Regions from separate parts of the Homo sapiens genome. Here region 2 is linked to region 1. Evidence: fine-mapped expression QTL. Tissue or cell type: whole blood. Region 1 holds a variant in brackets; the other region holds the start of a gene. All regions are shown on one strand. Distances are from middle to middle.

Region 1 (10,485 bases):
AATACTTGTGCTTTTTTATAGTTTTCTTTCAAAGAACATTTCAGTCCATGAGACAGAAAAAAAATGGCTTTGCTGTATCCAACTTGTCACAGGCTTGTATTTGGCATTGTTCTGAGAAAGACCTCAACCACTCGTGAAACCCAGACGTCATTTCCCGTCGTGTTCTTTCATGTTAAATGCTTCTAGCTGCTCGCTGGTGCTTGGTCACTCTATAACTAAATATTGCTTTAGCACTGGCTACACAAAGAGCTTCCTGAAAGCAGCAGGGGGGACATGCTAGGGGCTTAACAATAGGGGCACTGTTTCCATTGAGCGGGTTTGCTGCCCAACGCTGTGTCAAATGAAAGTGACCCAGGAGCACCACTGCTCCACTTCTGAGCTTCCACTTGTGACTTTTTCCTCACTGGGGAAAGAAGCTGGCTGTGATTTAGATGTGGCTAGCAAAAGGTTTAGTTCTGGCATAAAATCAGGCATCAGAACGACTTTGAAAGAAAGTAATTCACCTTCAAAAATACATGGGGAAAAAACTTCATGAGCACCAGAGAAGCATTTGGAAGAGTTAACCTTGGACATGGCTTACGAGGGTGTATTTTTAAGGCCAGACTCAGTTTTCATTATATTGTTGCTATGCAAGTAAATAAATGAGCTCACTGCTACACCCAAGCTGGGCAGAATGAATTTACAGAGAATTAATAAATCCAGGGTAGGCAACATGTGGCTTTTCTTCTGGTCATAGAGAAGCAACTAGTACTCTTGGATTTTAAGCAGGCAAACCTCTGTAGCTTTACAGTTTCTGAAAATTGGATCCCAGTTCTAATGGGCAGGCAGTGATAATGGTAATGTTTCTTTTCCTAAGGTTTTCTTTAAAGGGAAGGGATCAAATAGTTCATTTAAGACAAAGAGGTTATTATAAAGTCTAATAAATACTGTGGTAGCTCTGTTAATGCTTTTCAAGGGCATTTAAGTGAAAGAAGCCCTTTCCAACAGGCAGTTTTGGAAAGCTAAACACTCTTGTTAATTCATGAAACGCAAAGAGAGATAATATAAATAAATCAGGGGCTGGGGAGGAATTAGAGATAGACAGGAAGCAGTCAAATTTTACTTCCCACATATGCCAAGAAAAGTGCAAATACATGGCTGTTACTTAGTAAAACCTACTTTTAAATTCAGAGAATCGTAGGTACTATGAATGGTGAGGTTATAAATCTGTAATCATTACAGCACGGGGACACTTTTTAACTTCTCATCAATTACCCATTGTTATTTCCTGAGCACATCCTGGGTTACCTAGCTCCTGACTAGGCATTAGGGAAGGACACAAGAAGCTGACTCCACACATTAGTACTCTACTAAATTCATGGGTAAACTCCACTGGTCAATAATCAAGTCACTATCTCTATATTGGAGGCAAAGGATTGCACAATTCAGGCTATTTGTAATGTTGCTTTGGATTGTAGAGACTTAGACTCAGAGGAATCACGGGACATAGAATCTAGAACAGGTCTGTGTCCCATCATTCTCTTAAAAGAAAACCTTTCAAGTAATATTTCTTATTATCTTTTAAAATCTTGTTAAAATGACAAAATATATATATATTTGTAATTTTTAAAATTTTGATGCATACAAAGATAGACATAGATAGATAGATAATGTAGAAGTATAAATAATAATAAGTCACTAGAGCATGACTAACTAGTGAAGTTACCCAGTCTCCTCTCCATCCCATCTCTCTGTCTCCCATCCACTCTACCCAACTCTTCCTTTCAAAGAGTAGGATTTTTCTGCTTCGTTTTTTTACTGCTTTGTTCTTACTTAGGGTTGCTGGAAGCACATGGAAGGAGGGAAGTAGTCAAAACAAGACAGTGTTGTGAGGGGAGAGATGAGAAGTCATGATAAGTAGGTGGGTGGGTGACCCACAGGGCTGGCATCAGAAGGAAACATAGCAAAACATGATGGATATGAGGCTTGCTGTGGGGAGGGGGATTGGCCTTTGTGAGTGGCAGCCGTCTGCTCCCTTCCCGCTTCCCTTAGTGCTCCATTGAGCTAGCAGCATGCAGCTGAGAAGTTGAAGTTCTGACCACATGGCCTCTGCTGCCGCTGCTCTGCCCCATCCCAGGCACCTAGCCAGCTCTGCATTAAGGAGGTGAAGTGGATGCCCAAGGAAAGAAGTGCCCCCAAGGAGACTTGCTGAGACCTTGAACAAGTGACACAATGTGAGCAGAACTTGTCTTGACAGAAAATGCTTTGTCTCTAGGTGTTCCAGAGAGATGGGCAAGTGTCCTATTTCTTAGTGAGAGCCTCTAAACAAACCAGCTTGTGAACCTCCACTGAAAAGATCTCATCTGATGAGCATTTTAATAAAGTGTCCTGAGTTTGGAGGCTTGCCGTCTTTCTCTTGGATAAATATCTTCATCTCCTAGACTTGGAAAAACACATTTTCTCCTGGGGTTTCCCATTGGCGTGTCTTGAGCTGCTCTGGTGATAACCGTAATAATGCCAATACTGATACGAACAGCAGAAAACAGTAACCCCAAGAACTCTACAGATGATCATCAAGGACCACTGTCTCTTACCATTTGCTGCTTTGGTTTGAAATTCTCACTGCCTCGTAGATCTCATTTTGAGCACTATACATTCCTAAAGATTGATTTCTTTCTATCTGACTTAAATTTAGGAATGATTAAATCTTCATTTCTCCCATGATTTGATCCTAAAACATTTTGAAAGGAAACAGCCTTGAGATCTGTGATTACTAAGACATACATAACATTCTTATCACATTAGAAAGCAAGAATTGACTGTTGCTTGTCTTGTTCCTGTTGTCTTGTCCCCTGAATTCCTGTTTATCTTTGATTGTATGTGGGACATTGTATTTTCAGTACATTTGTAGAAATAATGTGAAGCCTATAAAGATGTTCTCTGCCTCCAGAGAGAATTTTGTTTCCTTCTGCCAGCCTCATAGGCAAGCATACATCTGATTCCATGCTTTGAGCTGTTCTGGCAACCCTGATGTCTTCAGCCTGTGCAAGGGTGGGTTTACTTCCAGTTAATCCTTATTTTGGATACAGTCCTTAGGGTTCCAACCCAAAGTCGGGGGTGGTTTGGGGTCCCTGCCTTGGTGAGCCCTATAGTCCAATGTTCCCCCTTACCCAAAGAAGCTGTAGAAAACCCAGCACAGCCTCCCAGGCACCAGTTTCAGATCAGCAAAAAATAGCAAATGCCCCCAGGCTTGAAAAGCAATCTCACCTCTATTAACTCTTCTCCCAAAGTTTGACCTAGTAATTCTTTATTATCCTTGAACTCTTGACACTATTAAGAAGATCTTTTCGGCTGGGCGCAGTGGCTCACGCCTGTAATCCCAGCACTTTCGGAGGCCGAGGCGGGCGGATCACGAGGTCAGGAGATCGAGATCGTCCTGGCTAACACGGTAAAACCCCGTCTCTACTAAAAATACAAAAAATTAGCTGGGCACGGTGGCGGGCGCAGTGGGCGGGTGCCTGTAGTCCCAGCTACTCGGAAGGCTGAGGCAGGAGAATGGCGTGAACTCAGGAGGCGGAGCTTGCGGTGAGCCGAGATCTCACCACTGCACTCCAGCCTGGGCGACAGAGTAAGACTCTGTCTCAAAAAAAAAAAAAAAAAAAAAAAAAAAAAAAAAAAAAAAAAGATCTTTCCTAGCTTTTCTTCATTTTTTTAAGTTGTCTTCAGCAAGATGGTTAATCTCAATTACCTAGTCCATGATTTCTGGAAGTCAAAGTCAAAAGGTAAAATCTATATAGCCTAGGTGACAATTACAATAACAATAACAATAGCTAAGGCTTATTATGGCTTTATGCCAGGTACTTTATGCACTTGATCTCATTTAATACTCATATAGCCTATGAGGGAAGTATAATTTCCATTTTACCTATGAGAAAACAGGCTTAGAATGGAACCTTTGTTCTCATAGCTTGTGAGTGGTAGAACCGGGATTTAGATCCAGCTCTGCCTGAGTCCAGCTTCTGTTTGTCAATTACTTCCCTCTTCAGACCTAATTCTTCCAATAAGCAACAGAAAAAGACCCAGTGGGGCCATGGCCTCTGGCACACAGCTTCTCATAAACGAGCCTATCACACATCCCCAGAACTAAAGCAATCGTATGTTCCTTCTGATGTTGAGGTAAAAAGCAGGGTTTGTTTTGGTTTCCCTTTTCCAAAACACTCCCCCACATGTTTCTGGCTTGTGGTTAAGAAGAACCCAGGTGTTCATGTCACATACGAGCTCAACTGGGGAAAAGGAAACCATCCAGCAGCCCTCCTTGCCTGCCAATAGTGGCTTCACCCAACTTGGGGTGCATTCTTCTACAGTTTCTGATTTCTCAACTTCACCTAACATTCCCTTGCCTTCTTGGATCCCTCTCTTGCCCAACACTACCATGCATGGCTGATAGGGCACTGTTCTGCCCCATATCCCATGGGTTCTACTTAACCCAGAGCTGGCTTACCTGGAAACCAAGCTTATTCTGTAGTGGCAGACCTCACGCCATCTTGCTTAATAGCCTTCAGTTTTCCTTTAGTTGATTAATGTATCACTCAATAGATTATGCAAGACCTACTCTGCTAGGCACTGTACTAGGCCCTGTGGTTTATATTTAAATGAAGAGGGAATGATCTCTGACTTTAAAATGCTGGAAGAAGAGATGAGATGCATCAAGACCGTCAAACCACAAGTGATAAGTGCTGTCAGAGATGTGTGGATCACTGGCTCAGGGAGTTCCAAGGATAGAGACATATTATCTGTTTGGGAAGGGCTTGGTGGGGGAAAGGCATTCAGCCGGGCCTTGAAAATCAATTAAAGTTTGAATATGAGGAAAGAAAGAAGAGCATCTCAGACAAGGACATGGCATGGATGAAGGCACAGAGGTATGGGCGTGCAGGGCATCTGTGGAAATGGACAGCTCAGTTCTCGCCGAGGGAGGGAGTTGGTGCAGAGCCTGGGGGCCCTGCCTTCAGAAGATTTCCAAGAGGAAGGAGGGCAAAAATACACAGATGAAGGCAAA[G/A]ACTGGCAGCCCGGAGGCCAAAGACGCGTTTAGTTTGGCCAAGACACTGTTTTTAAAATTTAAGTCAATTTTGAAAACCAGGTTTCACATAAAATTCCAAATTTCTGGCTTCTGAAAACGTGAAAGATCTGGCAACACAGGGCGCAATGTCTTCCCTCTTTCGGTAGAAGGAGTTCTGTCTCCCCGGCACCAAAGCCTGGCTTGTTTCTTCCCTACACCCTGCTTGCTCGGTCCGTGAGCATCTGAGTATAGGACCCTTGCTCTGCTATGGGTACCAGCTCAGGGAACACAGATGCAGAAACATCAGAAAGAGTCCCAAGGGCCTCTCATCCAACTTGCTGACTGTCATCATGCTGGTTCTCAGACCTCCCTATCTCTCTCTGCTATCCAAACACAGACCCTCCTCTTTAAAATTTCAGCATACATGGCTTTCAAAATTATGAGGCATGAAAGTGTCAAAAGCATCTCCAGAAACTCATGCCGCCAGGATCTGAGACTCAAAACAGTGTGGATCAAACACCATCAAAGTGTGGGGTGGGGCAATTCGAGTTTGTTTCCTTGTTTTTATGTAAGCAGATTAATTAGAGAACTAACATAACGCCAGTCTTTGGGCTTTTGATCCTATCCTGCCAGGACCCAGACTTGGAGATGTATTAAATGGATTCTTCCTTTTCTAAATGGAAGAATCTGCCCTTCTCGGCTTCATAGCTCTTCTCAAAGTCTCTGTCTTGGACCCTCCCGTTAGTTACTGAGAATGGTATACTAACATCTGAGAAAGGTTGGATTCCTCCTAGGGACAGAAAATCCACATATGGAAAGTGCAAATCCTGTGCCGGGTAATCACGAAAGCAGTTGCAGTAGCATTGGATCATAGAGCCCCAGGAGACCTCACAATTCAGCCCCCTTCCTGGCAACACTAATGAATTAAGAGGTCAGTTTGGTAATTCCAAAGGCTAAGCCTTTGTAACTATAAATAAATGCACAGAATGAAAGGAATGTAGAAAAAAAAAAAAGCAAACAGAGGGGGAAAGGAAATGAAAAACCTGACTTGATTTCATTGAGAAAATTAGTTTAAAAATGTCCTTTGTGTAGCAATTCCTTTAATGCCTCACCGAACAAATGCCTAGGAGAATTCTTCCAAACTTGAGGTCCCCTTAACCAGACCTTGGTGTGCGTCTTCAGCTGAAATTCAGCAGTTCTGGGAGGTGGAATGAGGAGAGATCGTTGGAAGGTTTTTGTGTACTTATGTCACGCAGCAAGAAAAAGCCTTAATGAACCACAAAACTGGAGACTTTGTAAGGTACAGCTCAGTCAGCACTTTTCCTCCGAGGAGAGGACACACAATTGGCATGAAAGTGACCCAAGCAACAGGTCGAGGCAGAGAATGTCCAAAAGTAGAAGACTTCGAGCTCCCTGATCTTCCACACGTCACAATGCGGATTGCTGCACTGGACTTGGCATTTAAATGGGACCAGCATTTTGCATCCTGGTCCCATTTAAATGCCATTTGTGGACCAACGTGAATTAGATGGTAATGTCAGGAAGGCTGGAATCGGTGGTGGCGGGCGGGGGGTGCTGTATTCGGTTGGCGTTTCCCCCCTGTGGTTTTCACCATCTGTTTCTTTGAATGCATAAACAAGGAAAATGACTGGTTTGGAATGCAGAGTTTTAAAAAACCAGAAGACCACAGGCATCCTCTAAATGAGAAAGAGAGAGCAAGTTGGGGTTCTGTGACATTTGTCAGGAAGTGAAATGTTAAATACCGGGAAGCATTAGCGCTTTCTGCCAGGGAAGATCCACAAAGGCAAGGAAACACTTTAGCGGTGAACCTGCCTTCCTTTTCTGAGGTCGTGCTATGTGTTTATATGTCACCTAGTGCTATTTTCAGACACCAACGCCACCCACTCTAGCTCCCAATCCCCTTCTGGGTTTTTTGTTTGTTTGTTTGTTTTGTTTTGTTTTGAGACAGAGTCTCTCTCTGTCACCCAGGCTGGAGTGCAGTGGAACGATCTTGGCTCACTGCAAGCTCCTCCTCCCAGGTTCACGCCATTCTCCTGCCTCAGCCTCCCAAGTAGCTGGGACTACAGGCGCCCACCACCACACCTGGCTAATTTTGTGTATTTTTAGTAGAGATGGGGTTTCACTGTGTTAGCCAGGATGGTCTCGATCTCCTGACCTCGTGATCCGCGATCCTTGCCCTCCCAAAGCGCTGGGATTACAAGCGTGAGCCACCACGCCCAGCCTGTTTGTTTGATTGTTTGTTTGTTTTTTGAGACGGAGTTTCACTCTTTTTGCCTAGGCTGGAGTGCAGTGGCAAGATCTCAGCCCACTGCAACCTCCGCCTCTCGAATTCAAGTGATTCTCCTGCCTCAGCCTCCCGAGTAGCTGGGATTACAGGCACATGTCACCACACCCGGCTAATTTTATATTTTTAGTAAAGACGGAGTTTCACCATGTTGGCCAGGCTGGTCTCCAACTCCTGACCTTAGGTGATTCTCCCGCCTTGGCCTCCCAAAGTGCTGGGATTACAGGCATGAGCCACTGCGCCCGACATGCCCGCTTCTGTTTTTTAAACGAAAGATGAACAGTTAAGCTGGACTTAGCCTTGGTTTTCCATTAGCATTATTGCTAAGTTGGCAACCTTGGATAAAATCCACTCTTGGAAACTTTTAAGCTGAACAAAAGCTGCACTATGAGCAGGTGCTATGATAAAGCCAAGACAGCGCTCTAAGTAGAGGGGCTGATGAAATAGACTAAGGGGAGATCTTCATTTCTCTCCTGGACAATAGCGAGTAAAAAAAAAAAAACAATCATATAAGGGCATTAGGAACACATTGTGTTTTTCTTTAGCAAAGGGCATCCTGCTTTGAAAAGGAAGGTTTGCTATGCACAATACAGTGGCCATTCTATAAAGTGGTTCCGTATGCTCCATGCCAACAGACCTCAAAGCAATAGGTTCCTTTTTTAAACCCAAGACAGTGGAGAGACTTGATGGAAATTTTGAGTGCATACTAATCTCTTTTACTTCGTTGCAAGAAACAATCAGTTGTAAGCACTAGGGATTAAAAGCCAAATTGAACTCAGGCATTTTGAGAGCGCCTGGGGAGAAGGCATTGGTGCATTTGGCTGAGTTCCACCCATTTCAGCATAAGATGGACGTGGAGCATTTTTCACATAGTTCTGTAGGCAGCCTGACGCCAGAGTTTTCACTTCAGAGAAAGGATAAAAGTTGACGGTTTCTTAGGGAACAACCAACTCTTCCTCATTTGCAATGTCTGTTCTCCTCAAAGATGTCGTGGGCAACGCTTGAGATGGGCACTCAATGACTCAAAGGGTGGGGGTTAGGCAGAAACAAGACCCTGGGCATTTAGAAGCCCTTGGACGATTACATATATTTCAAAATGAGTTAAGTTCAAATAATTTTTTGCTGGTGCTTAGCACACCAATGAAGTATGTAGATATGAAAACAGGAGGCTGCTAGGTAAGATTCATTTTATTGGCACTGGTTCCAGATGCCAGCATCGTGATGAACGCTATTTGACTTCTGATATCCCTTGACGTAGGTACTGTTGGGGATGTTTTCTTTCCTGGTGGAAATGGGAAAATGATTAGAGACCAGAGGTCAGGAGACCTGAATTCTGTTCCTGGTGCCTCCCTGACTCAGTATTTTGTTTGTTTGATACGTTAGAATGAAAGCTCCCAGAGGTTTCTAAGGACAGCACAGTTTGAGCATTGGCTTTGTAAAAGTACTCTGGTGACCTGTGGAATTACAGTTATAATCATCATAATAATGTCCAATGAAGAGGCATACTGAGGAAGGCATGAGAGGAATTTTAAGTGGCTAAACTCTATTTGCATTATTCATTTTACAAATTGTTTCAGAGCCTTAAAGCAAATTTCAGTATGCGGTACTTTAGATGCAAAATGCTCCTCTAGGACTTTCATAAGTTACACACAAGTATCCCTTAAAGTATATTTCAGAAATATGCTTGCAGTGCATCAACTCTATCTGATGAACTTTGAGATGATCACAATTAAGGGTGATAGAGATATTTTAGGGATTTTTTTTCTCATTGGGATTCAAGAGGGATTTAAAAGTTTACTAACCTGGGCCAGATGCAGTGGCTCACACCTGTAATCCCTGCACTTTTGGGGGCTGAGGTGGGTGGATCACCTGAGGTCAGGAGTTTGAGACCAGCCAACATGATGAAACCCTGTCTCTACTAAAAATACAAAAAATTAGCTGGGCATGGTGGCGTGCACCTGTAATCTCAACTACTCAGGAGGCTGAGGCAGGAAAATCACTTGAACCCGGGAGGCAGAGGTTGCTGTAAGCTGAGATTGTGCCACTGTACTCCAGCCTGGGGAGCAAGAGCAAAACTCCATTTCAAAAAAAAAAAAAAAAGTTTACTAACGTGGTGTCTACTTGTCTCCTTCCTGTTATGTCTTCTTTCTTTGGTTTCTTTCTATCTTTTTATGAGGGAGAGTTGAGGGATGAGTGCTTAGTTAGGAGGCAAGGAGATTCAAGGACTCAGGCTTGGAAATTTACACCTCTGTGCCTTCTCTCCCACAGGTGATAACCCCCGTGAGGACAGGCCATGGCTACGTATACGAGTACCCATCCAGATACCAAAAGGACGTCTATGATATCCCTCCTTCTCATACCACTCAAGGGGTGCGTACCAGAACATGGTCACAAGAGGAGAAGCGCTTCTAAGGGTAGCATTCCTTCAGGGCTGTAGAGAAAAGGGAGTTCACAAATTATGCATTAATATATGTCATATGAAGCTTTGTTTAGGTTGTCTACCCAGTAGCCACTTTAGCCAATGCTATTTAAATTATGTTTTCTGGATTTGCTTTATCAGGAAATCCTAGTATTTCACCCAAGAGAGCTTATGTTCTTCTACAATTTTGCTTCAGAAAGTAGATTTTTCTTTTTTCTTTTTTTTTTTTTTAAGACAGAATCTCACTTTGTTGCCCAGGCTGGAGTGCAGTGGCTCTATCTCAGCTCACTGCAACCTCCACCTCCCAGGCTCAAGCAACTCTCCTGCCCCTGCCTCAGCTTCCCAAGTAGCTGGGACTACAGGCACACACACCACCATACCTGACTAATTTTTGTATTTTGTAGGGACAGGCTTTTGCCATGGTGGCCAGGCTGGTTTTGAACTCCTAACTGCAAGTGGTCTGCCCACCTCGGCCTTCCAAAGTGCTGGGATTACAGGTGTGAGCCACGGCCCCCAGCTGGAAAGTAGAAAATTTAAACTACACTTTAAAGTACAGACAGCGTAGATATTTCACATAAGATCTTTTTTTTTTTTTTTTTTTTTTTTTTTGAGACAGAGTCTTGTTCTGTCACCAGGCTGGGAGTGCAGTGGCACGATCTCAGCTCACTGCAACCTCTGCCTCCCGGGTTCAGGCGATTCTCCTGTCTCAGCCTCCCAAGTAGCTGG
Region 2 (5,000 bases), 35 kb before region 1:
TAGATCTCTGAGTGGCTGGATCCCTGAAACTATTCAGATTTCTGCTTAAATATCATCTCCTCAGAGGAGCTTCCCTGACCACTTTATCTAAAATAATACACCTCCTGTCCCACCCTGGTCTGTTTTCCTCCAGCAATTTTCCCTGCTTAATTTTTCTTCATAGCATTTATCACTGCAAATCATATTATACATTCATTTAATTATTTTCCTCAACTCTCACTAGACTGTAAGCTCCATGAAGATGGGAACTTTGTCTGGGCTACTGCTGTATCCTCCCCTCCTAGAAAGGTACCTGGCACATGCTAGGTGCTCTAGTGATAACAGTTCAGTGAGAAAGCTGCCTTATGAAAGAATGGCACACAGAGAAGGGGTTCCTCCAACTTCTTCTGAATGCCTACCACACTTATCAACAGTAGTCTAATATTAATACTAGTTATAATTAATACAATAATTAAATAATAATCTATAGAATATAGCAATAATGTCATAAAATATTAACAAAATATCATAAATCTGATATTAATTAAAATAATAACTAATAACAACAGTAATAAGAACAAGCAACCATTTAAGGTCTTACAATGTAACAAGTACTATTAAATTCTATCCACATTATCTTATTTAATCCTCATTATGAGGCTAGCAGGTATTATTATTTTCTCTATTTCATACTGAAGGACATCAAAATTAAGAAGTTCAACTGGCCAGGCACAGTGGCCCACGCCTGTAATCCCAGCACTTTGGGAGACTGAAGCAGGTAGATCACCTGAGGTCAGGAGTTCGAGACCAGCCTGGCCAATCTGGTGAAACCCCGTCTCTACTAAAAATACAAAAAATTAGCCAGGTATGGTGGCAGACACATGTAATCCCAGCTACTCGGGAGGCTGAGGGAATTGCTTGAACCAGAGATGCGGGGATTGCAGTGAGCCGATATTGCACCACTGCACTCCAGCCTGGGCAACAAGAATGAAACTTTGTCTCAAAAAAAAAAAAAAAAAAAATTAAAAATGTTTTGAGGTTCCAGCACAGGTTTACCTGATTCCAACACCCTTGTGCTTTCCTTTAGGCAGCTAACTATATACTGACCCAAGCCTTCTTGAAATGAACTTCGGGTAGATTACATGTGTCTTACTTACCTTACAGGACAGAAACAGGAAAGCAGGAGGGCCACTAGCTAGAGAATGAAATTACAAAAAAACCCCAGCACAAACTTTAGGAAACTGTTTGAAAACATTAAAATAGGATGGGACAGCACTCACTTACTCAATGATATTCATCAAACAAAACAGAAAAAGGATTCAGCTTGACCACTTAGGAAGCCAAAGGAATGTTATCTAGATCTCTTGGAGGCCGCAAGACTCATCTTACAGATGGGAAGGGCTTTGAATCATTGTCCTCCTTTATCCAGGTAGACACCAAAAACAATTTCCTGCAAACTAACGACTCTCCGGTCAGTCTGCAGGATTCTTAAGGAGATCGTTACAATGCAATATGCTGCGTGCTTAATTTGTGTTCAGAAAGGCCTTGCACAATCACTCAGGCTTATTTTTGCTCTAAGGACAAATGAGGAGAAGCAAGGCCTAATACAGGCTGGAACAGGTATGTCAACCTCATTAGGATGGCCTGGGGGGTCATGTCCCTGGAATCAGTGCCACACTGAACTGCAAACTAACCTGCCAACCCTGTATCTGGAAACCACTTTTGTAGGACAGCTGTTCTCTCATTCCTTTTGCTTAGATCATAAAAGTAGAGTTTTCATCCATTGGGAATTTGTGTGTTAGACGCGAAGGGAATCAGATTCTGATCCAACTTGGTCAGGAAAAAAAAAAATAAGGGCTGATTTTTCCATCCAAGTCATGTAGTCTGGTTGGAGTGCATCCCACTCAGGGACAGCTATTGTCTGGATTCACCGAGTCTCAGTCTTGCCCGGGAAAAAGGAATTTTTCGCCTCACTGCTCTGTCCGTGAGAAGAGTTGCAGAAGGTGACCATTTCTGTTTTCTGGGTGATTCTCTTTCTCTATAGAAATCCTAAAATGGAACCTTTATAGAAATTATGTTCTGTGCTTCGCTGGAGAGAGACTGGTCTTTTTAACCAGGCTCATCAAACAGTGGGCATTTTCGTTCTCCTGGATAATAAGTGTTGGTGGGTTAATGGGTCATCCTCAGGACAGAGGTCAGAAGGAAAAACACTGCAGTGTTCAAAGCTGGAGCTAGAAATGCCAGCCGTCAAAGAACACAGAACTCAGTGGACGGTGATGATGTATAGGGCGTGCACTGGCCAACCCCATCCGAGAGGTCACATCTAACCTTTATCCTCAGCAAAGCCACTGAAGGTCGCTCAATATGTGTGACCCGCAACTCTGAGGCCCTGGTGAGAAGCTGTCCAGGAAAACGCTGGTGCGTGTGCTAGAGGGTTCCTTTTCACTAAGGGAGAATTGTCTTCCAGCTCCTTGCAGACTGACATCGCAAAGTACTTTGAACGTTGAAAAGAACAAAAAAAGCAAACAGTCACACACACACAAAAAGTAGGCGGGAGGAGGGGGAAAGAAAAAGGGACAGAGAGAGAGAGAGGTATCAGCAGGGGTGGTTAGTAAAAAGGGGCCCGGAGACAGAAAACCTTTTGTTCCCGGAGTTCGTTTCATGTAGAGATTGTGAGGTGAATGGCTTTGAAACGAAATGGGTTTATGAAGGAGTTGCTAGGTCACAGGAAGCGCGACTGTCAGACTGCTTTTGTGAATTCAGTTTCTTTAAAATTTGGGTTAATCTTAAAAAGAATGTATCTCCTTTTCCTGTTCTTTCTCTTTCTGTCTTCTTTTTTGGCGGGGGCGGGAGGACAGAGTAAGGTTCAGGACGGTTCCCCACTTTCTGTTTTATTTTCCACCGTCTGATAAAGCAAAAAGAAGCGATCACATTACAAGTTCTTTGTCAGTTTTTCAGAATTAGGGGTGGGCAGGGCCTGAGCATTACCTTGTCCCACTAGCCAATGGCGGGGCGGCATGCAAATGAGGTCCGCGATCAGCCTGCCTCAGTCACAACAGTGAGCTCAGAGACTTGAGGGAGGCGCTGCGACTGACAAGCGGCTCTGCCCGGGACCTTCTCGCTTTCATCTAGCGCTGCACTCAATGGAGGGGCGGGCACCGCAGTGCTTAATGCTGTCTTAACTAGTGTAGGAAAACGGCTCAACCCACCGCTGCCGAAATGAAGTATAAGGTAAGAGAGTGCCTTTTACAGGTTACCTTGCAAGCTGAAAGCTGTGCCTGCGGGTGTGTGCTTGTGTATGCGTGTTCCTTACTGTCAGTCCCTTGTGTGTCCCGGAGAGTTCTAAGATGAGTCTCGGTCACTGAGGTTGACATGCAAGCAGACAAGCAAGCAGAGACCCGGTCTTTGAGACCCACTCCAGGGGTTCACAGTACACCCGAGTCCATCTGCTCTGAAAGTTGCCGGGGAAATACCTCGGTGAGAAGTTAAGACTTGGAGCCGCTTCACAGCAGCCACTGGAGATCAGAGGGTGTCTGACTTGAATCGCGGCAGGCATTGGCTCAAGTCTCCTTGGCTTCCCCAGGCCTGGCTTCCACTGCCCTGGGGAACTGTAATGAGAGGAATGAGGACTGCATAGTCTGTCTCAGACTGGCTCTTAGTGCAAAGTTTTCCAGACTTTGCTTTAATCGTTTGGTCTCGGAAGGAGTATGCCATATGCACTTTTGGTGGGAGAAATTAAAAGCCCAGATTACACAGCTGAGGATGGAAAATTTTGACATCCTTATGTTATATTGGATGTAGGAATAAATAAGTATGAGCCATTTCTTGAAAACATTTTTATTGGAGTTTGAATGGGGTGAGAGTGCGAAGGCTCAGGCTGGCTCATTGTGCCTGAAAGCTTACAGAGTGTCATAGTCATAGTACTTCAGCAGCATTATTTTCCAATGCATTTTACACCATTGTTTGTGGATTTTTCTTGCCAAAAGGATTTTTGACTTGCTCCGTATATTCCCCCCTCCCCTTTTTCTTTTAAGTCACTCCCATCTAAGGAGGCAAGCAGCTTCCAGGGGACACAAAGAAAGCAGACTGCAATGAATTGGACATGAATTTTTCTTGAATGATGAATAGACATGAGTGCTAGTGCTACTATTTTATTTTATGCTATTTTAAACAAAAGTGTTATTATTAAGATGGATTTGGGCAAGGGTGCTAGGCTTGTGGATTGACAATTTATATTAACTGTACACTAGCTGGAAGCTACTTCGCTTTTTTTCTAAATTTTTCTGGTCCATCCTTTTTTGATGTAAGGTTGTAAATACTTGGTCTAACTGATAGCCACTGACTAGCCTCAGTAATAAAGCTTTTGTTCAAAAACTATGAATCTTATTCAAAAGCTTTAAGTCTAAATGTCAAAAGTCTTTATAGTAATGCCTACGTTACCACTGTCTGAAGACACAGGTATCAGCTATTTCTGTTTCATCAGCTTTCTATTATCTTCATCAGTAGGGAAGATCAGAGGAAAGGGTCATCCTGAAGACTATTAATATTTGACTTTAGGATGCAACCAGAAACAAATCCCTCTACTTGGCAGGAAAGTTATCTTCCTTAAAGTGGCTCACCCCATATTTCCTTATTTAGAACAATGATAGGACCAGATATTACTCAGCCTGGAGTGACTTTTTTGCTCCTCCTTTCCCTGTTGTTGAATAAGAACTGGCTTGCAGAAAAAAGAGAAAGTATGTTCATATGTCTATTATTGGAAAGTATAAATGGCTGAAATTAACATTGAGTGCTATAATCTAGAAAGTGACGAAAGCGACAAAGTCTCAAGTCACTTTTATTCAATGATCTCATCGTGGTTAGCTTTACTCTTTATGGAAAGAAAATCTAAAGGCAACTGATAAAGTGACTGACAGCGTAAACTGCGATTGGCATTCATGGAGAAACCTGCTTCTCCACTGGGCCTTACTGGTGTTGAACACCTTGCCAAATGATGTAAATACATGATTTTTATTACCTTG

Evidence for each region. PIP is the estimated chance that this variant, and not a neighbour inherited with it, causes the effect.
Region 2: NEDD9 starts here. The variant in region 1 is fine-mapped to the expression of NEDD9 in whole blood (TOPMed, PIP above 0.99).

The regions. Positions count from the first base shown.
Region 1 is chr6:11,192,816-11,203,300 of GRCh38, reverse strand. It overlaps NEDD9 (neural precursor cell expressed, developmentally down-regulated 9), which reads left to right. Exons shown (of 7, transcript NM_006403.4): 3 at 9,609-9,710. Among named protein-coding and RNA genes, the nearest start is that of NEDD9, 35 kb to the left of the region's middle. RefSeq lists enhancers at 4,022-4,071, 6,411-7,276, 7,277-8,143. The variant G/A (reference allele first, on the strand shown) is at 5,036.
Region 2 is chr6:11,230,714-11,235,713 of GRCh38, reverse strand. It overlaps NEDD9 (neural precursor cell expressed, developmentally down-regulated 9), which reads left to right and starts at 3,046. Exons shown (of 7, transcript NM_006403.4): 1 at 3,046-3,210. The coding sequence starts at 3,199. RefSeq lists silencers at 2,959-3,008, 3,489-3,538.